Homo sapiens: one gene and its partners. The protein of the gene in region 3 purifies or fractionates together with the protein of the main gene of each other region. This does not show direct contact. Each region holds a gene or a part of one and is shown on either strand. Other genes may lie near its edges. The genes, in order: NOSIP, KLHL24, NEU2, TFAP4, PEX14, TBC1D4 and KIAA1671.

Region 1 (3,500 bases), on a different chromosome or scaffold from region 3:
CAGCACAGCGCAGGGGGTGGCGTTGCTCAGGCTGTCGCGGGTCACGGCACACACGTAGCGCTCGCTGCGGGTGATGAGCCCCACGCGGTCCACGGAGCTGTCTAGCGGTGTGAAGTGCACGGGCGTCAGGTCCGACATGCGCAGGGGCTTCCCTGACATGGGGCAGGTCACCGTGCGGGACTGCAAGGGGCAGAGAGAGGCGGGCTCAGTAGGCAGGGCTGGCGCAGGTGGAGAGCGCGTGGTCCCTGTGCGTGAGGAGGACGGTGGGGAACCCTGGCGCCCTGGCACCGTGCGTGCCGGGGCGCTGTGGGGGCTCACCGGCTTCTCCAGCTTGGTGGCCTTGGCTTCGGGCGTCAGCGACGGGATCCAGAAGCTGGGCAGCACTTTGTCCTTGTCCTTACTTGGAGGACCCACACTGGGCCCAGGTTGGACATCATCTGTGGGGGAAGGAAGGGACTCAGATGCCGCCCCCTGGGCCCGCCCAGCCCGCGGCGCCCCGCCCCCCAACCCACAAGAAGCCCAACCTGAGTCACCTGGGCTGGTGCCCGAGAGGGCCTTGGCTGTGAAAGGGTTGAGGGGCCGGCTCACGATAGCCGACTCCTTCTCCAGGAAGCCCCGCACATGGTCCTGCGAGGCCGCCCGCTGAAGCTCCTTCTGCTCCTCGCGCCGGGTGCCCCGCTGCTTCTCGTAGGCCTGCGTCGGGGAAAGTGGGCTGAGCATCTGCCCGTGGGGCTGGGGGTATCTTCCTCCCATTTCACAGGTAGGTAAACTGAGGCCCACAAAGGGGACCCTCTGATGGAGGCACTATGTGGCAGAGGGTGGTAACTGCCACCCTGGGTGGGTGTGAACCTTACTGCGTTGTATAGCCAGACTGCCAGGGCTCAAAGCCCATCTCTGTCACTCTGTGGCCTAAGTGAGCACTATGACCTCTCCTGGCCTCAGTTTCTTCATCTGTAAAACAGCCTAACAGTGGTTACCCACCTCAGCGGCTCACTGAAGGGTTACATAAGGTGAGTGTTTACAGCATGGAGAGCCTCACCTGGCACTCAGCTAAGCATTTAATTAATGTCACCTGCTGGCCAATTAAGTTTTCTATACAGTGCATGCCCCAGCCCGTGTTTGGGACGGGGGATGTAGACTTCAGATCTAAGGGAATGCTGAGGAGCCCATGTCTATGGACGGACAGTGAGTGAGGACGGGAGAAGTGAAGCCATGACCTGAGCTCAGCCCTGCCTGGCGCACAGCAGTTGCCTGGGCGGTGCTGCAGTTCCAGACCACCCTGGGCCACCCAGCTGAGTGAGGAGGTAACAGTGACAGTGATGGATGCTCATGAGGGCCTCCGACATGACCACCAGGCTGTGTGGAGGACATGGGCACAGGGGGAGCCACCTGCTTGGGACAAAAAGCCCAATAAGCATGTGACCTGTAGTGTTTCCTGAGCGCCAGCAACCAGGCAGGGGAAGAGGGGGACAGACCCACTGTGCCTCAAACAGGGCCCCTCCTACCCATCAAATGGCTTTGTCCATGGAAGGCCAGGCCGGGTTCCCAGTAACACGCCTTGAGAATGCTCATCTGCGTGTACCTCCCAGGTGCCCTGCTGTGTCCTCTGATTTGGCCGTCAGCCCGTTTTACAGACGATGAAACTGAGGCCCAGAAAAAATGAGGTGATGTCAATTCACGTAGCACATCTTTTTTTTTTTTTTTTTTTTTGAAACAGAATCTCGCTCGGTTACCCAGGCTGAAGTGCAGCGGTGCCATCTCAGCTCACTGCGACCTCTACCTCATGGGTTCAAGCGATTCTCCTGCCTCAGCTTCCTGAGTAGCTGGGATTACAGGCGCCCGCCATGCCCGGCTCAATTTTTTTTTTTATTTTTTTATTTTTAGTACAGACAGGGTTTCACCATGTTGGCCAGGCTGGCCTCTAACTGTTGACCTCAAGTGATCCGCCTGCCTCGGCCTCCCAAAGTCCTGGGATTACAGGTGTGAGCCACCACCCCCGACCCATTTAGCATATCTTTACTAAGGACCTAAGCTACAGGGTGGGAAAACTCGAAGTCCATAAGGGAAAGTGGGCATGTGTCAGACAGCCACATGTACAGCTACAACTATGCTAAGTGCTAAGAGAAGAGGTGACTGGGGCAGATCCTGGGGACTGGCAGGAGCTCAGAGGAGGCAGCATCTGGGCTGAAATCGGTGAGAAGGATTTGGCCGGAAGCAGGGGAGGGGAATGGTGTACCAGGCAGAGGGAACTGAGATCAGAGGGCTCTGAGTGGCTCTGCCTGTGAGCTCAGACTCAAAAGCTCCTGCCTCCGTGTGCCGCCTCCTCCCCATCCCCATCACCTTCATCTGCCGGGCAATCTCCTTCTTCTGGTGCAGAATGTACTCCAGGATGGCCTCACGCTCATACAGGTAGCCATCTGGGCTGCAAAGACAGGGTGCAATGAGAAAGAAAGAAAGTGATCCTCCCGCCTCGGCCTCCCGAAGTGCTGGGATTATAGGCAGAAGTCATCATGATCAGTCCCAAGTTCAATTATTTGCTAGAATTCACAGAACTCAGCAAAGCTGTTATACTCATGGTGATAGTTTACTGCAGTGAAAGGATGCAGATTAAAATCAGCAAAGGAAAAAGGCACATGGGGCAGAATCTAGTAGAGACTAGATTTGAGCTTCCAGCTGTCCTCTCCCAATAGAGCTGCAGGGAAAGTGCTTCATTCTCTCAGCAACAATGTGTGCCACATATTGTTGCAGCCACGAGTTCGAGACCAGCCTGGGCAACAAAGTGAGCTCCCCTCTCTACAAAAAACAAACAAAAACGCCAGGTGTGGTAGTGCACACCCGTGGTTCCAGCTACTCGTGGGGGCTGAGGCAGGAGGATCACCTGAGCCTGGGATATCAGTGAGCCAAGATGTCCCCATTGCACTCCAGCCTGGGCAACAAAGTGAAGACTCTGTCTCAAAAAAAAAAAAGAAACCTGAAGGTGGCCTTGGGGGCCCTGATCATTAATTACTGTCTTCTACAAAATATACCACTAATTGAGCACGTATTTAGTGCCTGGACTCAGCACCTGTTAAGCCTTTGCCCTACCATCAGAGGTAGGTCATGGGAAGTGTCCAAAGGTGAGCTGCTCCGATGGCCTCGGCAATGCTCTGAGAGCCCTACACCCCATTAGAAGTATGTTCCTTTCCATATGTTCCACACTATGAAACAGATGCTAGGATCATGCCCATGTCCCATGTGAGAATACAGAGGCTCTGAGGATAAACTGCTCATCCAGGGTTCCCTGGCTGTGCAGGTGGCCAGACCCACGCACACAGCCTCCTCCTGGCGGTTCCCTTGCTCTCCCCACCCAGACCTACCCATCCCTGTTCCCAGCTCACGTGACAACAGGATCGTGGCAAGGCTGCAGGGAGAGACAACAGCAGTCGAAGTCCTTCACGGCATCCCGGCTCAGTCGAATGTTCTGGGTCCCATAGCCCGAGGCCGCTGGGGACAGAGATGGG
Region 2 (4,292 bases), on a different chromosome or scaffold from region 3:
TTGATTAATAGTATTTATTTTTCACAGGCTTGACCTTTGGGTTTTAATGAAATGGGAGAAAAGGAAGTTAAAAAAAGTTATTGAAAAAGCATTAAGGTTCAACAACTTGGACAAAAGCCAGGAAAGTTTAAGTTAAAGCTGGTAGTCAGCCTTAACGCAGAATTTATTTCTTCTTCCTGTTTAGAGACTTAGGTTGCTGGCTTTGTTTGAATAAGCAAGCCTTTACTGAGTGATGGTTTTACTTTTTCAAAAGGTTAGACGATTGCATTTTGTACTCATTTAGATACATTAAATACTCTCAATGCACAAGTGATGAGGCGGTTCTGATCACAGGAGATGCTCATTCCGGTGTAACCATCTCCTCTGGAATTTTAAAGAATGCATAACCAATAGGAACTGTTCATATTCAATTCCTGCTTCATCCAGGGGAGCTCAAACTTCCTTCTACAAAAATGTATTGTCTTTGCCAGGCACGGTGGCTCACGCCTGCAATCCCAGCACTTTGGGAGGCTGAGGCGGGCGGATCACCTGAGGTCAGGAGTTCAAGACTAGCCTGGCCAACATGGTGAAACCCCGTCCCTACTAAACATACAAAAACTAGCCGGGCGTGGTGGCGGGCGCCTGTCATCCCAGCTACTCGGGAAACTAAGGCAGGAGAATCGATTGAACTCGGGAGGCGGAGATTGCAGTGAGCTGAGATGGCCTGGGTGACGGAGTGAGACCACTCCACTCCAGCCTGGGTGACAGAATGTGAGACCCTGTCTCAAAAACAAAACAAGTGTATTAAGTCTTGAGTGAATTCCTATATCTGCAGAAGAAAATCTGACAAAACGCAAATACCCTATTAACTCAAGCGATTAGAAAAACCATTTTCAACACACTATGGCTAAAAATGATTGGTCTTGAAGATTTTATTACCGTCAGCTTAATGTACAATTTTAAAACGACACAGTCGCAACCCACTTCTCAAACATTTTGAATTACCACGGGAATTAAAACATAGAAGTGTGTGACCTAGAATCCCTCAAACAAGGAAAACAACTCATCCGAGCCGAGTATGGAAGAATCTTTACTTTTTAGGGGAGTATCTTCAAACTATCTTTTTTAAATAGTAGAAATCTGCTTTTAAATCTCAGCCAACAACAAGCAGATTTTAAATCTATTTTACAACCCTAATAAAAACCAACCTCTTAGCTGGTGGACCCAGTCTGTAGCTGCAAATACAAAGACGTGATTTTTGAAAAGCTGCCCACAAGAGCAAGTGATTAATCATTAAAATCCACTAAAATCAATTGTGAACAGCCACTGCCTCAGGGGTGACCGTGGGGCCCCCTAAGATGTGGCACTGTGATCTATATTTAGCTATCTAAACACGTTTACAGAACTGGCAACAACGTGTTCGCAGGACTTCCTGCGAACCACCCGGCAGATAACGCGACACTAGTTAAAGGGTGTTAATTTTCCGGTCCTCGGAGGGCAGGCCACGGTAGCCGATCTCTGCGTGCCCAGAACTGCCTGCAGGATCAGGCAGCAGCAGCGGCGGCGGCGGCCACCGAGGCTACCAGCCGCCCGCAGCAGGGGCGGGAGCGCGCGCCTCCCGCACCCGCGCCACCCGGCTCCACTCGGGCCGCAGCTGCAAAAGCAGCGACAGCGCGCGCTCCCGCGCGTCCTCCAGATCACCTTCAAGGGGGCGGGAAGAATGGCCCAGGGCAGGCCCACCTAGTGACAATAAAAACTCGCCAATAAAAACTCGAACTCTCCCTCGGGTACCGCCCACAAGCTGCCGCAGGCGCCCAATCCCCGCCGCGTTAACAGTCTTCACCCGGGGTGTCCAGAACTTGAGGGCGGGTCCATTAGGAACTAAATTAAGAAACTGAGTCCTGGAGTGGTAAGAAGGTGGGGAGGTTAGGCGGGGACTGCGCCGGCGGAACGCCCGCTCCCCCGCCCGCCCCGGCTCCCCGGGGACGGCCGCAGCGGGCCGGGTGTCGCGATCGTGGTAAACAAAGGCTCGCAGGGGACGGGGGCGGGGGTAACGGTCAGGTGACAGTGCCGAGTGCATTTCGCAATCGCTTTAATGGGGCTTCACGGGCCCGCGGCCCTGGGGACCCCACCTTGACCCCGTCATTCCTCCCGGACAGAACCGACGGTCGTCCCACCAAACAAGAAGGCTGGATTTGAGGCGGTCGCACTCCCCCGGGCTTCCTGAAATAAAAAGCAGCGCCCCGTTCGCAGCCCATCGGCAACAAGCAGCACCCGTCTGCCCAGCCGCCTCCCCCGGCGGCGCCCGGCCCCGCGGCGACTAGCCTACCGCACCTGCGGCTACCCCCAGTCCCGGCAACCACCCCGCCCTAGCCAGGCCGCACCAGCCGCGCCGCGGTTCCGGGCCGTAGTGCCAGGAGGCGCGCGCGCCCTCCCTCAGGGCTGTAGCTACCAAGCGGGGGAGGAAGACCCCCCAGGTGAACCCTGGAGGCCCCTCGCCTCAGAAAGGGGCCCTGTAGCCCAGCTGCAGCCTCTCCGCAGACCGCCAGTCTGGCTCTGAGAGGCCGGCCGCCGCTGGCTGCCCTCCCGCAGACACCCCGGTGGTCAGGACCGCCGTCGCCCCTCCGCCCCCGAGGACTCAGACTCTGACCGGTTCCTCGCCTTTCGGCCGGTCCCGGAGCTGTCACCCCCGGTACCTCTCGGCGAACACTGGAAGCAGCCAGCAGTGGCTAACCCCGCGGTCCCTCAGCGGCGGGCGGCGCAGCGCACTCTCCAGCGCCGGCGTCTCCTCCAGCCACCAGTCTCTGCCGCAGCTCACAACAAAGGAAACATGTGACCGTCCGGGCCAAAACACTGAGCGTCAGCGAACCCTGGCCAATCCGGGTGGGCGTCCTCCGCCCCGGGGAACCCTGGGAGATGTAGTTCACGCTTCCCGGTGGCCTCCGGGGCCACCTGGGGCTCCCGCCGTGGGGTGGGTGTCGGGTGCCCAAGAGGACGAGACCCACCCAAAGGGCTGCTGACTCAAAAACACCTTGTTTTAAGCAGAGACAGTTAAAAAAATGCCTCTTGTGTAAGGAGCCGAGTGAGAAGCCAGAGTCGTTTCTTTCCTTCCCTCAAAGGCCCCTGCCACGTCCCAAGGAAAAAGCCCGCGATCAGCCCTTCGACTTTAAAGCTTGGGTCGAAGCTTAGAGAGCTTTTTATTTGACCCTTTGATAGACAATCGGAAATCAGGCCTGAGGGCCTGCAGGGTGGACGAGACTAAAACCCCAGTCCTTAGAAGGAGCAAGGAAAACCACCTCTTTTTTTTTGATAAAGCTGTTACTGTCCCTGGTATCAAATCCTAGGTTACCTTTTTATTTTAAACGCACATGCACGTCGACCAAAGCTGTCACAAATCCCTGTTTTCCAAGGTAGATGGAGTTCCTAAAGGACATTGTGTTGTCGTTTTGTGTCTGCAAGCTTTTTGTTTTGTTTCGTTTTGAGACAGAGTTTCGCTCTGCCACTCAGGGTGGAGTGCAGTGGCGCAATCTCGGCCCACTGCAACCTCTGCCTCCCGGGTTCAGGCGATTCTCCCGCCTTAGCCTCCCGAGTAGCTGAGACTACAGGTGCCCGCCACCACGCCCAGGTAATGTTTTGTATTTTTAGTAGAGGCTGTGTTAGCCAGGCTGGTCTCGAACTTCTGGCCTCAAGTGATCCGCCTGCCTTGGCCTCCCACAGTGCTAGGATTACAGGCATGAGCCACTGCGCCCCGCCTGCAGGTATTCTTTTAAAGGATGATTGCAACCATTTAACTAGTTTTTGGTTTCTGATACCAAATTTAAAAATCTCTATCTTCTACATGTCATGAATACCGTCATGCCTCTATTAAATTAGGCGTTGTGTTCTGATGACCAGAGGCGGAAATAATATGGAAGGCCTATATACAGGCCTTTTAAACATACTTTTTAGGCCTCTTTTCCATCTCTTATTCAATTATTTGAGCTATTTCTTCTGGTATTTATATATTTCCAAATAATGTATGACTATTTCCTATTAAGGAAGCTATCCTTCTCATAATCTGGTTAAATCATTAATGTTTACGCTAATGAGACCATGTATTTATTATTCATTGTTGAGACAAATCGTATACAATTTCCCATCTTGTATGGCTTTTGGTTTTCCTTGGAGTTTTAATAATTATCCTCTTTCTTTGCTTATTTTATTATGGATCTATCACAATGTCCTCTTAGTTTTTCTAAAACGATAAAATGCTTTCAATACAACTCCATATAATCAAACCCATCAGATAATCCATCGTGTGTGTATGTGTGTGT
Region 3 (4,280 bases):
CTCTGCTAATTTACACCATGGTCTTCCATCTCAGTTCTTCCCCAGGAACATAAGGAATGGTTCCCAAGAAGGAAGGAGTTGAACTAGAAATTTGTCAAGACCTACACAAAGCTGGGGGTAGGGGACAGGCAGACAAGGTGACAGCTGCGCTGCAGGACCCTCCACGCCTTCCCTATGGAGGGGCTATGGGAAGCCAGACACTTTTGGTTTCTGGGCTGAAAATAGAACCTTTTGGGAAGACTGGAACCACGCAGGAGGAAAAGAGCAAGAGGTGCACCTCTCTCCACACACGGGCGCCGAAGGGAGCCCAGAGTGGCCCCCACGTCCAGGGGCCACGGGAAGGAGAGGCAGCCGCAGAGCCTCCGAGCTGGGTGTGCAGGTGAAAGGCAGGCCCTTGAGGTGGGCACCACAGGCTCACTGAGGCAGGTACTCAGCTGGGAAGGCTTGCTTCAGGGTGAACATGAGAAAGACAATCTCCTCGTAATCATTGGCTTCGTACAGACACCCAAACAAGGGGGACCCATCAGGGCCGGTGCCCATGCTCTGGAGGTCTGAGTAGGCACAGCTGCCCTTGGCCAGCAGTACCGGCTCTGACCAGGCCTCAGGGGCTGGAGGTCGCGGGTTGAGGTAGGCACCCAGGTCGGCCCTCTGCCAGGAGTGTGTGGGGTGAGTGTAGAGCAGCCACTGGGCTGGGGAGCCAGGCCCCGAGCGGGGGCTGGGGAAGCTGATGACGCTCCCCTGGCAGCCCTGGGGCGGCGGCTCCACCAGCTTCTTCACCAGCTGAGACTCCTGGAAATCAAGCCCGTCATTGGTGCTCTGGGCCTGGACCCTGGCTCGGAGGTGGCTTCTCGCGTTGAGGGTCACCACCCTCTGCTCCCCAGTCTCGACTTCGGCCACCTGGCACTCCAGGGTGTCCTGGGCCACAAAGTGCCCTCGCGCCCACGTGCGCCCATGGTCATGGCTGAGGAAGCAGAAGGCAGAGGGGATCGGCCTTTGGATGGGGTGAAGTTTCCGGTAGGCGTAGGCGGGCACCACCAGGCTCCGGGCCCTGTCGTGAAGCTGCAAACAATGCCCCGGGCCCACTGCAAAGGTGGACCACTCCCGGTAGGCTGGGCCGATGGCCGCATCAGTGAGGTCTCTGGGGGAGCTCCAGGTCCTCCCGTGGTCAGTGCTGGTGACTTGGCACAGCCGCGTCACATTGGCCCTGGTCTGCAGCTGCTGTTGCTCCGTGACTTGCCCAGGGATGGCAATGAAGAAGAGGAAGAGGGTCCCCGTCTGCGCGTCATACAAGGGGCATGGGTTCATGGACCGGTGGCCATCCAGCCGGGCCTGGGCCACCACCTCCTGAGCTTGCCACTGAGTAGGGAGAGAGAAAGAAGAAGGCAGCCTTGAAACAGCTGGGGATGGTGCCAGGAGCTGCATGAGTGGGAGGGGTGGGCACGGGTGTGTCTCCCGGGTTAGAGTCAAAAGTCATCGAGAAGAACTCTTCACCCAACACTCATATCCTCCTTGCAACGTTTCCCCAGAGCTGCGGGGCCCAGGGTGCCACCTCACCCCTCCAAGGCAGCCACACTCGGCTGAGTGATTCTGTTCCTTCCATTGCCATCAATATGCATTTACAGAACACCCACCTGCCAGACCACAAGATATGAAGATGACTCGTGCATGAGCCATTCCCAACTTCATCCTGGTTCCTCCACTTCCCACCCCAGTCCAGCTCACCATCCTTGAATAGCAAAGCCCTGGCGGAAGGTGCAATAACCTGACCAGTACAAGACAGAATGTGACGGTCACCTCTCACCTTCTACACTCCATATCCTACTCATGTAGCCAAGGAGGAGTCACATTGAGCTTCCAGAATCCCCAAGTCTATGTCACATGTGCTGTCTGTCCCCATTTATTAACAGCTACCCCCATTGGGCAATTCTAAGCACAGACACAGCACCAAAAGTCTAACATCCATGGTCTCATCTAATGCCTCAATCCCCAGGGAACAGGTGTTAGTAGCTCCATTATTACAGTGAGCAAGAGACCGCGACAGGGAGGAGGAGTTGCCTAGGCCACATCTGTGGTCAGTGGCGGAACCAGGACTTGAACCCAGGTCCATCTGCTTCAAATCCCATGCTTTGAACAGCTGTGTAGTAATGACCACAAAGGAATGATAATAATATTAAACTCTTCAAATATGATCAGCCAGCCTTGGGTGCTGTCATCAGGATTAATTATTTAATCTATAAAATGGGACTTTAGGACACAAGCCATCACCCCACCCCAAGTCCCCAAGTTAATTTTACTCAAAGGACACAACCCTCCATTATGCAACACTGAACTATTCCTCCGTGAGGTCATCACGGATGCTGGGCAACTCATTCAATCTTTCATGAAAACAGATGGAGGCCAGCTGGACTAATTCACAGTGAACCCAGAGGTCCAGGGAACCATTAGGGGCACTTTCTCTGCTCTATCTCTCCTCCGGAGTACAGCCATTGAGGGATAAAGTTGTCCCTGTATTTCTTGAGATCCAGGACTGGCCCCTGATCACAGCAGCAAAGGGTGTGGCAGAGCCCTGGGGAGCCAGTGCAGACACCTCCTGCCTCACCTGAACCTGGTGGGTGGGTGCGTCGTAGTCTCCTCTGCGCAGGACAATCAGCTCTGCGTGCTCATCCTTCTTGCTTGCCCGCTGTTCCGCGAAGGCCAGCAGGGACTGCTGCCCAGGCAGGTAGAGCAGGGCAGGGATTCTGTAGGCATGGGCTCCCGACTGGAACACGCTCTCCTTCTGCAGGACAGGAAGGGACGCCATGGGGCTGGGGGGTGGACAGGAAGAGAAGATGTGTCACCTGCAGCCACACCTGAGATGGGCTCAGAGTCATTCACCAAGACAGGTGGTGCTCACCCCCTGGCTGAGTGGACCAAAGTCAGGGCGGCCTGTCCTCTTCCCGCGTGGGGTTCATTCTCCTTTCCTACATCTCAAGACCCTGCTTCTTAATTCTGCCTTTGCCTCGGTGGATATCGGGAGGGGGTATTGCAAAAGCGTGTTTTGGATTCGATTTTTATTCTAAGTTAACAATGCTCCTTACAACAGATTTTCGATAACCTCCAGCTGCTTTTGCCAAACCCAGCCCATCAATCCAGGGGCAAACCTCGGGAGGACAGCAGTGCAGGCCGGGTGGCATTCGGCAGCTGCCCAAATGCCAGAAAGTGACACATGGGAGCTTTTTATAACTCCAGAGCCCTAGAAAGTTGTTTCAAAGAAAAGGAAAAAGAAAAAGCATGGCTTCTAAGGCTCTGCTCCCCAGGCTGCCTGAGGCTGAGGCCCGTCTGCCCCCGCTGCTGCGTGGGCTCCCCCTGAGGCAGCGAGGGGGCGGCGCTGCAGTGGGAAAGGAAGAGACAGGGGCTCCTGACAGCTAACCCAGGCTGGGGGCGTGGGGTGCTCCAGAGGTCTAAGAAAATAACAATTAAAAATAAGTCTTCAGCTAAAAAGGGTAGGGAGGGGACAGAGGTAACTTGGGGACAGTGGGTGACAGTGATTTTCGGGCTAAGCTGCCTAGGTCCCTTTAGGAGGATGCATCCCGCAGCTCTGGGGAGTGTTGGCTGCAGGGCCCTGGCCTGGGGAGGATGGGCCAGTTGTTCCCAGATGAAGAATCTGCCCCAGGTCATACCCAAGAAGGGCTGCTTGATGATTGGTCCACTCAGAGCCTGAAGACCCTCTTCCTGAACTCCTGACCAGGAACAGTGCGGCTCCGGAGCTCCCTCCGGGCGGCTGGGCCTTCCCTGAGACTGCATTACAGCCGCCTCTTTCTCTGCTGCTCCTCCCTTTCCCCCAGAGGCTCTTGCCTGCCGTGGGTCTCCGTGTCAGAGCCGGCGTCCTGGGCACCCCGTCTGAGACACAGCCTTTGCAGAGGGCAAGTGGGCAAGAGGCCAGCAAGAGGGGCAAGGTTTGCCTTTGTGCACCCTTTTGTACTGCTCTCATTTTTCTACCACATGCATGCGTTATCTATTTAAAACTTAGCTTCTTTGAGAAATAAATGTAATCTATCAGTCTTTCATTCAACCACAGTGAACGTTAATATTAGGACGATGTGAGAAAATAAAACTGAGAAGGGCAAAAGCTGCACAAGGAAAAAATGTGCTATTCCCTGAACTTCGGTGGGAGATTCATGGCTTGGTGATAGAATCACCAAATTATAATCCAAGGACACAGGCCTTGATAGGTATCGGGAGGCCTATGCTGAAACGCTGTTAGAAAATGTCAGCAGGAAAGAATCAAATATGATAACAAG
Region 4 (3,500 bases), on a different chromosome or scaffold from region 3:
TAGTAGAGATGGGGTTTCACCATAGTGGTTGGCCAGGCTGGTCTCGAACCCCTGACCTCAGGTGATCTGCCCACCTTGGCCTCCCAAAGTACTAGGATTACAGGCATGAGCAACTGCGCCCAGCCACTGAGTCTTAAAAGCAGGTATATGGGCAGGTATATGGTAGTCTCCATCCATATCTTGTGTTTTGTTTGTTTGTTTGTTTGTTTGTTTTGAGATGGACTCTCACTCTGTCGCACAGGCTGGAGTGCAGTGGCGCAATCTCGGCTCACTGCAACTTCTGCCTCCGGGGTTCAAGCAATTTTCCTGCCTCAGCCTCCTAAGTAACTGGGACTACAGGCCCGCTCCACCATGGCCGGCTAATTTTTGTATTTTTAGTACAGACGGGGTTTCACCATTTTGGCCAGGATGGTCTCGATCTCCTGATCTTATGATCTGCCCGCCTCGTCCTCCCAAAGTGCTGTGATTTCAGACGTGAGCCACCGTGCCCGGACTCTCCATCTGTATCTTTTTTTTTTTTTTTTTTTTTTTGAGGCAGAGTCTCGCTCTGTCGCCCAGGCTGGAGTGCAGTGGTGCAATCTCGGCTCACTGCAAGCTCGGCCTCCCGGGTTCACGCCATTCTCCTGCCTCAGCCTCCCGAGTAGCTGGGACTACAGGCGCCCACCACCACGCCCGGCTAATTTTTTGTATTTTAATTAGAGACAGGCTTTCACTGTGTTAGCCAGGATGGTCTCGATCTCCTGACCTCGTGATCTGCCCACCTCGGCCTCCCAAAGTGTTGGGATTACAGGCGTGAGCCACCGCGCCTGGCCTCTGTCTGTATCATAAAGCTCCTAGGCCTGGCTCGGTGGCTCAAGCCTGTAATCCCAGTGCTTTGGAAGGCCAAGGGGAAAAAATCATTTGAGCCCAGGAGTTCGAGACCAGCCTGGGCAACATAGCAAGACCCCACCTCTACAAAAAATAAAAAAATTAGCCCGGCATGGTGGCATGTGCCTGTAGTCTCAGCTCCTTGGGAGGCTGAGGCAGGAGGATGGCTTGAGCCTGGGAATTGGAGATTGCAGTGAGCTATGATCATAGCACTGCACTCTAGCCTGGGTAACAGAGACCCTGTCTCTTAAAAAAAACAGTAAGACTGGGTGCAGTGGCTCACTCTTGTAACCCTAGCACTTTGGGAGACCAAGGCGGGAGGATCACTTGAGCCCAGGAGTTCGAGACCAGCCTCAGCAACATGACGAAACCCTGTTTCTACTAAAAATACAAAAAACTAGCCGGGTGTGAATGGTGTGCACTTATACTCCCAGTTGCTTGGGAGGCTGAGGAAGGAGGACGACCTGGGCCCAAGAAGTTGAGGCTACAGTAAGCCGAGATCATGCCATTGCACTCCAGCTTGGGTGACGGGAGTGAGACCCTGCCTCTAAATAAATAAATAAAAATAAATTAAAAAAATAATAAAACTTAAAAAGCTCCCATAAGAAGGAGTTCAAGAAAATTGAAGGCTTTGGAGTGTTTATTGGGTCCCTGATTTATTTATGAAGCAACAACATTCTGCCGGGACTGAGGATACAGCCATGAACAGGATGTGACTCCTGTCCTCAGCAGCTCACAGCCTTGTGGTCTTAAAAGGTCTTGTAGACCCCCTAAGAGTTTCATGGGTTGTCCTGGACACCTGGGTGCAAACTAACTCTTGGGCCTCGACCTCCCGAGTAGCTGGGATTACAGGCACGTCCCACGACACCCGGCTAATTTTTGTATTTTTAGTAGAGAGGGGGTTTCACCATCTTGGCCTGGCTGGTCTGAAACTTCTGACCTCAGGTGATCTGCCCACCTTAGCCTCCCAAAGTGCTGGGATTACAGGCATGAGCCACCGTGCCTGGCCTTTCTTGATCTCTTTTAAACTTCACCATGACCCTGTGAAGTGAAGCAGTGTTTCCATATTTTACAGACGGAGGAAACCGAGGCTTGGTGTTGCACAGCTAGTAAGTGGCAAGGCTGGACTTTTTCACTTGAGCCCAGTGCAGGGTTCCCACTGATGGGCTGGAGGAGCTTTGGGGAAGGGAGGGAGGCAGGGATGTTTCTGATGGCAACAGCCTGGGCATGGTGTGTTCTGGGACCGAGGGGAAGGGCAGCAGACTGGCCAGGTCAGAGTACAGAGTATGGGTGAGTAGTGTAGAAGCAGCGGGGATGGAGCATGGATGAGAACCTCGGGCTGATTAGGTTAGAGAAGGATGAGTGCCTTAGTGCTTTTTTGGGTTTGGGAGAATCCCGTGTGGACTTTCCCACGTTGACTGTGTAGATGTTAAGTGACCCTGAGGTATGTGAGTGACTTCAGGGCAGTGTGAAATGAAAGTTCTCAGTGGCCGGTTTGAGGCTGGAGCTGGGCAGGCAGGTGTAGAGGGATTGGGGGTACTTGACTTTGGCCTGGGCAGGAGGGATAGGTACCTGGCAGGGTTCTAGACTTGAAGGGCATGCCCCATGCCTCCAAGTGTCTGGTTGGGACGCCAGCGTCAGTCTCAGCAGATTCTGTGGGTGCTGTGGTGGTAGGTGTGGCGGCTCTTGCCTTAGCATCCAAGGCTGGTGCCCAAATTTTGTTCCTTGGCCATTGGCTGCTCAGTGACCTTATTCCTAAATCTAGGGCAGCCCCTGTTTGGACCCAGGAGGCTGGCTTGCAAGAAGCAAGAGAGCCTTGGTGTGGCTGGGCATGGTGGCTCATGCCTATAATCCCAGCACTTTGGGAGGCCGAGGCGGATGGATCATTTGAGGTCAACAGTTCGAGACCAGCCTGACCAACATGGTGAAACCCCATCTCTACTAAAAATACAAAAATTAGCCGGGCGTGGTGGTGGGTCCCTGTAATCCCAGCTACTCGGGAGGCTGAGGCATGAGAATTGCTTGAACTCGGGAGGTAGAAATTGCAGTGAGCTGAGATTGTGCTACTGCACTCTAGCCTGGGCAACAGAGCGAGACTCCATCTCAACCCCCCCTCCGCCCCCCATAATTAGCCAGGCTTGGTGGATCACGCCTGTAATCCCAGTTATTTGGGAGGCTGAGGCATGAAAATCGCTTGAACCCGGGAGGTAGAGATTGCAGTGAGCCAAGATTGTGCCACTGCACTCCAGCCTGGGCAATAGAGCGAGACTCAGTCAAAAGAAAAAAGAGAACCTCGGTGTTGGTGGACTTGGGTCACCTTTGATTTTCACCTGGAGGAGTCTGAAGTGGCCAGAGAGAGGATAGTGGACCTTTACTGTGTGTGTAGGACGTTTACAGACCTTAACCGTAAATGCAAAACCCCAGAAAGAGCTATCAGAAACTTTCAGGCATTTGCAGAAAAATCCACTTTATTCAGTGCAGTATCACCTGGAAATTTCAATCAACCATCCTTCATCAACAGGAACCCCTGGTTGGTCAGCCATCAGAAGCCCTGGTTGGTCAGCATTCCACCAATAAGAATTCCTGGTTAGCGGCACTCCACCAATCACAACCCCTGGTTAGCTCCTATTCCA
Region 5 (3,500 bases), on a different chromosome or scaffold from region 3:
CGTGACTGCATTAATGTGGGTGAGATACGTCGTGGTAATGTCCACTTTACTAAGAGACTCTCTCTTCTGCTGGCTTTGAGGAGGCAAGTGGGAAGACTCATTTGGCAAGAAACTGAGGGCGGCCGCTGGCTGACAGTAACACACTAAAGTCTCCAGTCTCATGGTCCATAAGGAACTGAATGCCACCAACAACCACACAAGCTAGGAAGCAGACCCCTCCCTAGTCAGCGACCACAGTCCTGACAGATTTCTCAATAGTAGCCTGGTGAGACTCAGCCCAGTGGTTTCCTGACTCCTGACCCACAGAAACCATGAGATAATCAATGTGTGCTGTGCCAAGCGGCTAAATTTGTGGTAATACTGTTACGCAGGAATCAAAAACTACTACAAATGTCCATCAACTGGTGAACAGATCAACAAATTGAGATATAGCCATCCATACGATGGAATACTACTCAGCGGTAAAAAGTAATTCATGGTCAGGCGCAGTGGCTCACGCCTGTAATCCCAACACATTGGGAGGCCAAGGCAGTTGGATCACATGAGGTCAGGAGTTGGAGACCAGCCTGACCAACACAGTGAAACCCCATCTCTACTAAACAAAAAAAAATTGGCTGGACGCAGTGACTCACACATGTAATCCCAGCACTTTGGGAGGCCGAGGTGGGCAAATCATTTGAGGTCAGGGGTTCAAGACCACTCTGGCCAACATGGTGAAACCTTGTCTCTACTAAAAATTCAAAAAAATTAGCCAATTAGCCGGCCATGGTGGTGGGCGCCTGTAATCCCAGCTACTGGAAGGCTGGGGCAGGGGAATCTCTTGAACCCAGGAGGCAGGGGTTGCAGTGAGCCAAGACTGAGCCACTTCACTTCAACCTGGGCAACAAGAGCGAAATACCATCTCAAAAAAAAAAAAAAAAAGGTAATTCATTACTGATAATTACTGATACATACCATAACACAAATAAATTTCACAAACATTATTCTGAGCCAAAAAAGACATAAAAGAATACATAATTCATTCATATGAAATTCTAGGAGGGACAAATATACTCTATAGTAATAGAAAACAGTTCAGATTTCCTAGGACCACAGGCAAGGATTCAATGGGAAGGGGCGTAAGGGAACGTTTAGGGATACTGAAACTGTTGATCTTGCTTGTGGCAGTGGTGGTTACACAGGTTTAGGGTGGTAGTGGTTACACACGTATATACAATTTGTCAAAACTCAAACTGATCACAACACACCTATTAGAATTCCACAGTAAAGTTTAGGCCATAAGACTTTGTCAGTCAATACAATATTAAACTAAAATACTAAAAAAAAACTTGGCCAGGCCAGGCGCAGTGGCTCACGCCTATAATCCCAGCACTTTGGGGGGCCGAGGCGGGTGGATCATGAGGTCAGGAGATTGAGACCATCCTGGCCAACATAGTGAAACCCCGTCTCTACTGAAATATAAAAAGTTAGCCAGGCATGGTGGTGCACACCTGCAGTCCCAGCTACTCCGGAGGCTGAGGGGGGAGAATCGCTTGAACCTGGGAAGTGGAGATTGCAGTAAGCCGAGATCATACCACTGCACTCCACCCTGGAGACAGAGCAAGACTCCATCTCAAGAAAGAAAAAAAGAAAAACTTGGCCATGTTCACACCTGTAATCCTAGCACTTTGGGAGGCCAAGGCAGGAGGATCACTTGAGCCCAGGAGGTCACGACTGCAGCGAGCCATGACTGTGCCACTGCACTCCAGCCAGGGTGACAGAGTGAGACCCTGTCTCAAAAATTTAAAACAATACTAGCAAAGTTGCAAAGAAAGCAACTAATTTAGCAAGTTAACTTTATGATGGAGAAATGTGATAGACACCACCTTAACCAAACAATCAAACTTCATCTTCGACAATGGGACTCGTTCCTCCAGATATGATACACAGATAGACACAACGTCACTTACATAATATTCTCACAAAAGAATGTTTAACCCGGATCTAAATGTAAGGGAACAAATCAGACAAATCCAGATGGTGGAACATTTCACAAAACAAGTAGTCCAGACTCTCCAAACATGTCAATACCATAAAAAATAAAAAACGTAGATGAACTCACCAGAAATGCACATATTATGTTCACAAAAAGACACGTACAGGTATTTTCACAGCAGTACTATTTGTAATGACCCTAAAGGTGAAACAATCTAATGTCCATTAAAAGTAGAATGGCTCAGGCCAGGCACGGTGGCTCATGCTTGTAATCCCAGCACTTTGGGAGGCCAAGGCAGGTGGATCATGAGGTCAAGACATCGAGACCATCCTGGCCAACATGAAGAAACCCCATCTCTACTAAAAATACAAAAATTAGCCGGGCATGGTGGCACATGCCTGTAGTCCCAGCTACTTGGGAGGCTGAGGCAGAAGAATCACCTGAACCCGGGAGACGGAGGTTGCAGTGAGCTGAGATTGCGCCACTGCACTCCAGCCGGTGACAGAGCGAGACTCCATTTCAAAAAAAAAAAAAAAAGTAAGATGGGCCACCCGCAGGGGCTCACGCCTATAATCCCACCACTTTGGGAGGCCAAGGTAGGTGGATCACTTGAGGTCAGGAGTTCGAGACCAGCCCGGCCAACATGGTGAATCCCCCGTCTCTACTAAAAACACAAAAATTAGCCAGGCATGGTGGCCAGTGCCTATAATCCCAGTTACTCAGGAGGCTGAGGCAGAAGAATCACTTGAACCTGGGAGGCAGAGGTTGCAGTGAGCCAAGATCATGCCACTGCACTCCAGCCTGGGTGATAGAGCAAGACTCAGTCTCAAAAAACAAAAAGTAGAATGGTGGCCAGATGTGGTCACTCACACTGGTAATCTCAGCACTTTGGGAGGCCCAGACGGGCAGACTGGTTGAGCTCAGGAGTTCAAGACCAGCCTGGGCAACATGGCAAAACCCCGTCTCTACAAAAAATACAAAAATAATTAGCCAGGTGTGGTGGCATGCGCCTGTGGTCCCAGCTACCAGGGGAGCTGAGGTAGGAGGATGGCTTGAGCCTGGGAAGCAGTTTGCAGTGAGCCGAAATCGTACCACTGCACTCCAGCCTGGGCAACAGAGCCAGGCATTGTCTCAAAAAAAAAAAAAAAAAAGAGTAGAATGGTTAATAATAAATGGCCAAACACATTCATACAATAACTGTATAAAGCAGTGATAATAAACTGTCACTGTTCTCATCATGAATGAATCTCAAAAATATGTGTTAAGTAAAAGAAGCCTGGGAGACTGAGGTGGGAGGCTCACTTGAGGTCAGGAGTTCAAGACCAGCCTGGGCGACACAGCGAGACCCGACCTCTACAAAAAATAATTAGCTGGGCATCATAGTGCATGACTATAGTCCCAGCTACTCGGGAGGCTGAGGCTGGAGGATCACTTGAACCCAGGAGGTCAAGGCTACAGTGAGCTGTGATAACACCTCTCCACTCCAGACTGGGTGACAGAGTAAGACCCTGTCTCAAAAAACAAA
Region 6 (3,500 bases), on a different chromosome or scaffold from region 3:
TTCTAAAAATAGTAATTTTAAAAAATAAGTTATAATCATACTTTCTTCTAAATGGTCAGCAAAAGGATGTATCTGTAATTGGGCTAATGAATTAAAATCTTTGAAAATAACCCATTCAGAAAAATTAACAACAAGGACTGTGACTAACTAAAAAAAGAACAAATCTGATAACCCCAAGAAAAGGGGAAATTCAGTTAATACATCACCAAAGACTAGAGAGGCTTTAATGACATACCTTGAGTTCATTAAAAACAAAACCACCACCAACAAAAAAGAAAAAATATGAACTTCCAGGGGTCAAGGCTGTAGTGAGCTGTGATCACACTGCTGCACTCCAGCCTGGATGACAGAGCGAGACCCTGTCTCTTAATTTTTTTTTTTTAATCAGGGGTGTGTTTTTTTTTAATCAAGTAGTAATATATTCAATGCTACTTCTTGCCATCATTTTCAATTGTTGAAATGGGCATACTGAGCTCAGAAAGCAAATCTGATGCCTTCATGATATGGAGCCACATTTGTGTTCTGTGTGGGATTACTTCTGCAGGAGAACATCACATTTTCTCCTTAAGGCAAAATGTTTGTAAGTGTTGCCTCTTTACTCTGAATTTACTTTTGAAGCTGTACTTGTTCACCTACGAGTGTTTATGAAATCCTGCATTTGGGATGCTTTTTCTATAATAAAATATTATCATTTGTGAAAAAAAGCCTCATGAACTTCCGATAAAGCAAACTTCTGATATTACACACCGGTACTATTTACCAAAATACTCCGGAATCTCCTTCTTAGGAAATCTTTAAAATAGGTTTAAAAAAGACAGTCACTCTTTTCTTTCCCCCCAAGGAAACTCAAATCTCACAAGCTGAGAATTAAAGACTCTCTACAGAGTATTGTTAGGAATTAAGTTATTTTAAGCGGAACCTGACACCTTCTATACCCTGTACAACATTCAAAAATGTTTAGAATTAAGAATGATCTTTTATACCAATACTACAGCTTGCATCAAATTATTTTAGTATCCAATTCAGTACATTTTTAGGCCAATGATGTTTCTTTAACGTCTTTTGGTGTGACAGCATAAATTGGTGTGTCCTCGACTCAAAATACAAATACAAGTCTCTGGAGTTTTTTCTTCTCTAGAAAAAAAGTCCCTTGTTTCTCCATGCCAAATCGCACTCTCTCAGATTCATATCTTTAAAGATTTACTTTCTACAATTTTTTTGTTGTTGTTGAGATGGAGTCTCGCTCTGTCGCCCAGGCTCGAGTGCAGGGGGTCAATCTCAGCTCACTACAACCTCCGACTCCCCAGTTCAAGCAATTCTCCCGCCTCAGCACCTGATTAGCTGGGATTACAGGCACGCCCCCACCACATCCGGCTAATTTTTGTTTTTTAATAGAGACGGGGTTTTGCCATGTTGGCCAGGCTGATCTGGAACTCCTGACCTCAAGTAATCCGCGTACCTTGGCCTCCCAAGGTGCCGGAATTACAGGCGTGAGCCCCCGCGCCGGGCCTACAATTTTTTTTTAAGCATTTATTTGAGAATCACCCCAAGGCAAATGCTGGTTATAGATTCTTATTCTCTCTACCAGGTGTCCAGGACGTTCTACGAATTGCTTCCTCCTCCTCTTCCTTCCCTACTCCCTTAATTCTTATACTCCACACTCCACGTCTGCCTCTCCCCCCTTCCCTACTTTCCTCTGCACTCTTCCTCCACCTGCCTTATCTGCTTTGAAGGGGAAAACAAATAAAAGTTAGATTATTCGTTATATAGAGGTGGAGCTGGGAGGAACTGGATGCCCAGCTACTTCCATCTGGCACCTTTTGGGGCAAGGGCAGACAGCGTCCGATCAGGTGTACCTGGAAGAGCATGGTCCTGTTCTTCTCCGAGTCCGAGGGCTGGACGTGACTGGGTGCGCTCGCGTGTCTCCGTCGCGGCTGGGATTTCTGGCTGCCCTCGTGAACTCTCCGTTGCACGCCGGTGACACTGCTGCACCGAGACCGAAACTCCTGCTGCTCATCAAAGCCAGAATCTTCCAAAATCCGCTCAGGGAAGCAGACCCGAGAGCTGGTCAGGGCAGGCTGGCTGGCCCCGGCAGGTAAGCCAAGGTGGGTGTCGGTGCCGTCAGCCTCCTCCGGCAGGCAGTCTCCGGGGGACCCGGGCACCACCACCTCCAAGTCAGCCAGGTCCTCTCCTGGGTCCGGACCGCGCTGCTCCCCTTGGATCTTCAGGCGCTGCTGTTCGTGCAGGCTGAACTTCTCCATGCAGTCATCGATGAGGCTTGAGGGGGCCTTCTTGTGGGTCACGGTCACCTTTCCACAGTACAGGACTTCGAACTTCTGAGAGTTGTAAAAGGCGTCCTCATTATCTTTGCTGGGTTTGGCATCCTCTTTCATGGCCGCTTTAGATAATTGCCTTATGCTGCTAATAACATCAGGAACCTGGGGGAAAAAATTAAAACCCTGATTCTAGTTGAAAGTTTTGAGACAATTTACATTTACCTAGCCCAATTATTACCACATGGAATGTATTTTCATCCTAAATAATATACAAAGTAATAGACACTACACGAGACAGAGCATACACTTACATTATTTGACATAAATGACTTCAAGATAAAATTAAAATGTAATGAAAATTGAAATTGAATAGCAGGATTATATTTTCCCACTTTAAATGAGTCTCCCAGAAACAAAACCATGAAACTATATAAGCCACTGCCAACCTATTATGTCATAATATGTCTTTTGATTGTGTTTAAAAGTTATTTGTGCCTCAGCTGAAAGGAACCAAAGTTCCAACCATGAGGACAAAATAACCTTTTTTGATGAGGAGATTAAAACCTAGACATCCCTCATCAGCATTAACTATCAGAGAAAATGCAAATTAAAACCACAATAAGATACCACTATATACCTCTTAGAATGGCTAAGATAAAAAGAAGACTGCCAGCAAGGACATGGGAGCAACTGAACTCTCATACATTGTACACAGACATATAAAATGACACACCACTCTAGAGGATGGTTTGGCAGTTTCTTAGGAGTTAAATATAGACCTACTTCATTACCTAGGCATTCCACTCCTAAAAATTAAAAGACTGGAAAACATGTCCACACAAGAGCCTACAAACAAATATTCAAAGGCACTTTTGTCCCAATACCCTGTGAAAGGAAAATATCTTAGGCCCCCAAAATCACTAAGGAAAACTCAAGCTGAAAATTGCTTAGGGCAAACCTACCTCCTATCTATTCAAAGTCACCCCTCTGCTCACTGAGATAGATGCATATCTGATTGCCTCCTTTGGAAAGGTTAATCAGAAACTCAAAAGAATGTAACCATAGCACCTGTTTATGACCTAAAAACTCCCTCCCTGCTTTGAGTCTTCCTGCCTTTGCTTCAAATTGTCCCGCCTTTCCAGACGGATCCAAGGTACTTCTTACATATATTGACTGATGTCTCATGTCTGCCTGAAGTGTATAAAACCAAGCTGTGCCCTAACC
Region 7 (3,500 bases), on a different chromosome or scaffold from region 3:
TTTATTTTTAATTTTAATTTTTTAAATTTTTATGTATTTATGTATTTATTTATTTGAGACAAGGACTCACTCTGTCTCAGGCTAAAGTGCAGTGGTGCAATCAAAGCTCACTGCAGCATCGAACTCCTGAGCTCAAGCAATGCTCCTGTCTCAGCCTCTGAATTAGATGGGACACAGCCTGACACACTGCCAGGCTAATTTTTTTTCTTTTCTTTTCTTTTTTTTTTTTTTTTTTGATACGAAGTTTTGTTCTATCGTTCAGGCTGGAGTGCAGTGGCACAATCTCGGCTCAGGGCAACCTCCACCTCCCAGGTTCAAGCAGTCTGCTGCCTCAGCCTCCCAAGTAGCTGGGATTACAGGCATGTGCCACCATACCTGGCTATTTTTTTGTTTTGTTTTGTATTTTCAGTAGAGAGAGGGTTTTTCCATGTTGGCTAGGCTAATCTTGAACTCCTGACCTCAGGTGATTCACCTGCCTCTGCCTCCGAAAGTGCTGGAATTACAGGTGTGAGCCACTGTGCCTGACCGCCAGACTAATTTTTAACCTTTTTTTTTTTTTTTTTAAGAGACAGAGTCTTGCTCTGTCACCCAGGCTGGATTGCAATGGCATGATCTCAGGTCACCACACCCTCCACCTCCGGGGTTCAAGGGATTCTCCTGCCTCAGCCTCCCGAGTAGCTGGGATTACAGGTGCCCCACCACCACGCCTGGCTGATTTTTGTATTTTTAGTAGAGACGGGGTTTCACCATGTTGGCCAGGCTGCTCTCGAACTCCTGACCTCAGGTGATCCGCCCACCTCAGCCTCCCAAAGTGCTGAGATTACAGGCGTGAGCCACCTCACCCGGTCTTAAATTGTTTTTTCAGAGACAGTCTCGCTATGTTGCCCAGGCTGGTCTCAAACTCCTGGGCTCAAGCAATACTCCCATCTCAGCCTCCCAAAGCGCTGGGATTACAGACAGGAGCCACTGTGCTTGGCCTTAGCTTCTTCTTAAATGGCAGCAGTTTGAGTAGTGAGACTAGGCAGAAGCACCCCTCCTTGTGTTGGGAGCCATGCAAGTGGGAAGGGCATGGCTTTGAGGCAGACAGCTTTGGGTTCAAATCCCAGCTCTTCCACTTTCCCGCTGCGTGACCTCGCAGCACATCAATAACCTCTTGAAGCCTCAGTTTCATGAACTGTAAAGTCGAGGGTCTCAAAAACAGGCACCACCTGGGTTTGTTGTAAAATATTAAAAAAAAAAAAAAAAAAAAAGGCCGGGTGCCTGTAATCCCAGCACTTTGGGAGGCCGAGGTGGGTGGATCACATGAGGTCGAGAGTTCGAGACCAGCCTGACCAACATGGAGAAACCCTGTCTCTAATAAAAATAACAAAATTAGCCAGGCGTGGTGGCACATGCCTGTAATCCCAGCTACTCGGGAGGCTGAGATAGGAGAATCACTTGAACCCAGGAGGTGGAGGCTGCAGTAAGCCGAGATCCTGCCATTGCACTCCAGCATGGGCAATAAGAGCAAAACTCCGTCTCAAAAAAAAAAAAAAAAAAAAAAAGGAACAAAAGAGCTTAGCCCAGATTCTGGCATAACAGCGCAGCTCTGATGCACTATGTGCTTTACCTACATTCTCCCCAGTCCTCCCATTTTACAGAGGAAGAAACTGAGGTCCCGGGGGGACATGGCTTATCTAGGTTCACACTCCTATAATCTGGATGGGTGAGTGGAAGAAGGAGAGTGAACTCCTGGACAGGGATGCTCCTGCCCTCCTCTCTGTCCCAAACCTGCCAAAGCCTTCAGGTTTAGAAATTCAGGGAGTGTCTGGGGTATAAAAGGAATTTTTGCTGCCCATGGTCTAACTTTTATTCATTCAGCACATCCTGAATTCTGGGTATATCAGTTGGCATGCAGTTCTCCAGGCGATCTATGCCTTTGCCAGTGCTGTTGCTTCTGCCTGGAATGTCCCAGCCCTCCCTCCTACTCATCCTTTAAGACTCAAGTATCACCTGTGGGTCACTCCCTCTCTCCCCCCAACACACACAGGCACACACCAGGTTGAGCAAAGCACCACCCACCTGGAACTTATCCTGATGACAGGCTATAGTGATAATAATCATACCACCCCTTACAGAGCATAGACACGGGGCCTAGCACTGTCCATACACTGCTTCAGTAAACTCACATAAGAACCTTTTGAGAATGGGAGTATCCTATCATGAGCCCTTTTTACAGATAGGGAAGTCGAGTCTCAAAACCATAACCATGCCCAAGGCCACAGCCAGGAGCAGGCAGGGCCAGGGTTTGCCCTGGACTATCTCTGGCTGATTCCCTCCCTCCCTTCTTTTTTTTTTTTTTTTTGAGACAGAGTCTCGCTCTCTCGCCCAGGCTGGAGTGCAGTGGCACTATCTCGGCTCACTGTAAGCTCCGCCTCGCCAGTTCACGCCATTCTCCTGCCTCAGCCTCCCAGGTAGCTGGGACTACAGGCACCCGCCACCACGCCCGGCTAATTTTTTGTTTTCGTATTTTTAGTAGACACGGGGTTTCACCGTGTTAGCCAGGATGGTCTCGATCTCCTGATCTCGTGATCCATCCGCCTCGGCCTCTCAAAGTGCTGGGATTACAGGCGTGAGCCACCACGCCCGGCTGGCTGGCTCCCTCCCTTCTATCTGCCTCCTCCGGGAAGGCTCCTTCAATTTATCCCTTCCACACCCAACTGAAACCCACCTTCCTCTGTTGCTTCTCTACGGCTTAACCTGAACCCAAATATTCACTAGTTGCAAGTTGGAAGGGAGTTCAAATTCCTGCTTTGCCACTGCTGCCTGGCAAACGCCTCACAATGCCACAGAGGCCTGCATCAGTGAAATGGGAATAATGTGCCCCATGTCTCCCCACAGGAAGTCCTTGAGGACTGGCATGTTTTATACCTACCCCTGAACAGGCACAGGGTTCTAAAGCAGGTTTGCTAAACTGAATTCAGTACTGATACCACTCCCTCTGAGGGGTTTCCTTACCCCAGGTAGACTGTTACACCCACCTTGAGGAAGGGATCTTCAAAGTGAGTGGCTCTCTAAATGTAACACTGATCAATGTCAAAGTTGTCAGTGAACACCCCTCCAACACCATTGGTCTCTACGTCCAGTCCACCGCGCACCGCGGTCTCTCACCAGGATTTTTCTTTTTTCTTTTCTTTTTTTTTTTTTTTTTTGAGACGGAGTCTCACTCTGTCGCCCAGGCTGGAGTGCAGTGGCATGATCTTGCTTCACTGCAAGCTCCGCCTCCCCGGTTCATGCCATTCTCCTGCCTCAGCCTCCCAAGTAGCCAGGAGAACAGGCACCTGCCCCATGCCTGGCTAATTTTTTTGTATTTTTAGTAGAGATGGGGTTTCACCATGTTAGCCAGGATGGTCTCGATCTCCTGACCTCGTGATCGTCCTGCCTTGGCCTCCCAAAGTGCTGGGATTACAGGCGTGAGCCACCGCGCCTGGCCTCTCACCTGGATTTTTCTAGCAGCCTGC

Evidence for each region.
Region 1: the proteins of NEU2 (region 3) and NOSIP purify together in Homo sapiens (affinity purification with mass spectrometry; 3 studies listed by BioGRID and IntAct, with this or other methods). This does not show direct contact.
Region 2: the proteins of NEU2 (region 3) and KLHL24 purify together in Homo sapiens (affinity purification with mass spectrometry; one large-scale study listed by BioGRID and IntAct). This does not show direct contact.
Region 4: the proteins of NEU2 (region 3) and TFAP4 purify together in Homo sapiens (affinity purification with mass spectrometry; 3 studies listed by BioGRID and IntAct, with this or other methods). This does not show direct contact.
Region 5: the proteins of NEU2 (region 3) and PEX14 purify together in Homo sapiens (affinity purification with mass spectrometry; 3 studies listed by BioGRID and IntAct, with this or other methods). This does not show direct contact.
Region 6: the proteins of NEU2 (region 3) and TBC1D4 purify together in Homo sapiens (affinity purification with mass spectrometry; one large-scale study listed by BioGRID and IntAct). This does not show direct contact.
Region 7: the proteins of NEU2 (region 3) and KIAA1671 purify together in Homo sapiens (affinity purification with mass spectrometry; 3 studies listed by BioGRID and IntAct, with this or other methods). This does not show direct contact.

The regions. Positions count from the first base shown.
Region 1 is NC_000019.10:49,556,557-49,560,056, forward strand, and holds part of NOSIP (nitric oxide synthase-interacting protein), read right to left. Parts: intron 3,484-3,500; coding exon 3,378-3,483; intron 3,349-3,377; exon of another isoform or gene 2,879-3,348; intron 2,794-2,878; exon of another isoform or gene 2,423-2,793; coding exon 2,341-2,422; intron 694-2,340; coding exon 534-693; coding exon of another isoform or gene 525-533; intron 438-524; coding exon 319-437; intron 181-318; coding exon 1-180. UniProt on the Homo sapiens protein: E3 ubiquitin-protein ligase that is essential for proper development of the forebrain, the eye, and the face. Catalyzes monoubiquitination of serine/threonine-protein phosphatase 2A (PP2A) catalytic subunit PPP2CA/PPP2CB.
Region 2 is NC_000003.12:183,634,131-183,638,422, reverse strand, and holds the start of KLHL24 (kelch-like protein 24), read right to left. Parts: upstream 2,801-4,292; 5' UTR 2,630-2,800; exon of another isoform or gene 2,112-2,629; intron 1,889-2,111; exon of another isoform or gene 1,814-1,888; intron 1-1,813. UniProt on the Homo sapiens protein: Necessary to maintain the balance between intermediate filament stability and degradation, a process that is essential for skin integrity.
Region 3 is NC_000002.12:233,031,192-233,035,471, reverse strand, and holds NEU2 (sialidase-2), read right to left. Parts: upstream 2,801-4,280; coding exon 2,600-2,800; intron 1,357-2,599; coding exon 415-1,356; downstream 1-414. UniProt on the Homo sapiens protein: Exo-alpha-sialidase that catalyzes the hydrolytic cleavage of the terminal sialic acid (N-acetylneuraminic acid, Neu5Ac) of a glycan moiety in the catabolism of glycolipids, glycoproteins and oligosacharides.
Region 4 is NC_000016.10:4,266,524-4,270,023, reverse strand, and holds part of TFAP4 (transcription factor AP-4), read left to right. Parts: intron 1-1,819; exon of another isoform or gene 1,820-1,976; intron 1,977-3,093; exon of another isoform or gene 3,094-3,500.
Region 5 is NC_000001.11:10,481,450-10,484,949, reverse strand, and holds part of PEX14 (peroxisomal membrane protein PEX14), read right to left. Parts: intron 458-3,500; exon of another isoform or gene 1-457. UniProt on the Homo sapiens protein: Component of the PEX13-PEX14 docking complex, a translocon channel that specifically mediates the import of peroxisomal cargo proteins bound to PEX5 receptor.
Region 6 is NC_000013.11:75,360,170-75,363,669, forward strand, and holds part of TBC1D4 (TBC1 domain family member 4), read right to left. Parts: intron 2,439-3,500; coding exon 1,857-2,438; intron 1-1,856.
Region 7 is NC_000022.11:24,955,716-24,959,215, reverse strand, and holds part of KIAA1671 (uncharacterized protein KIAA1671), read right to left. Parts: intron 1-3,500.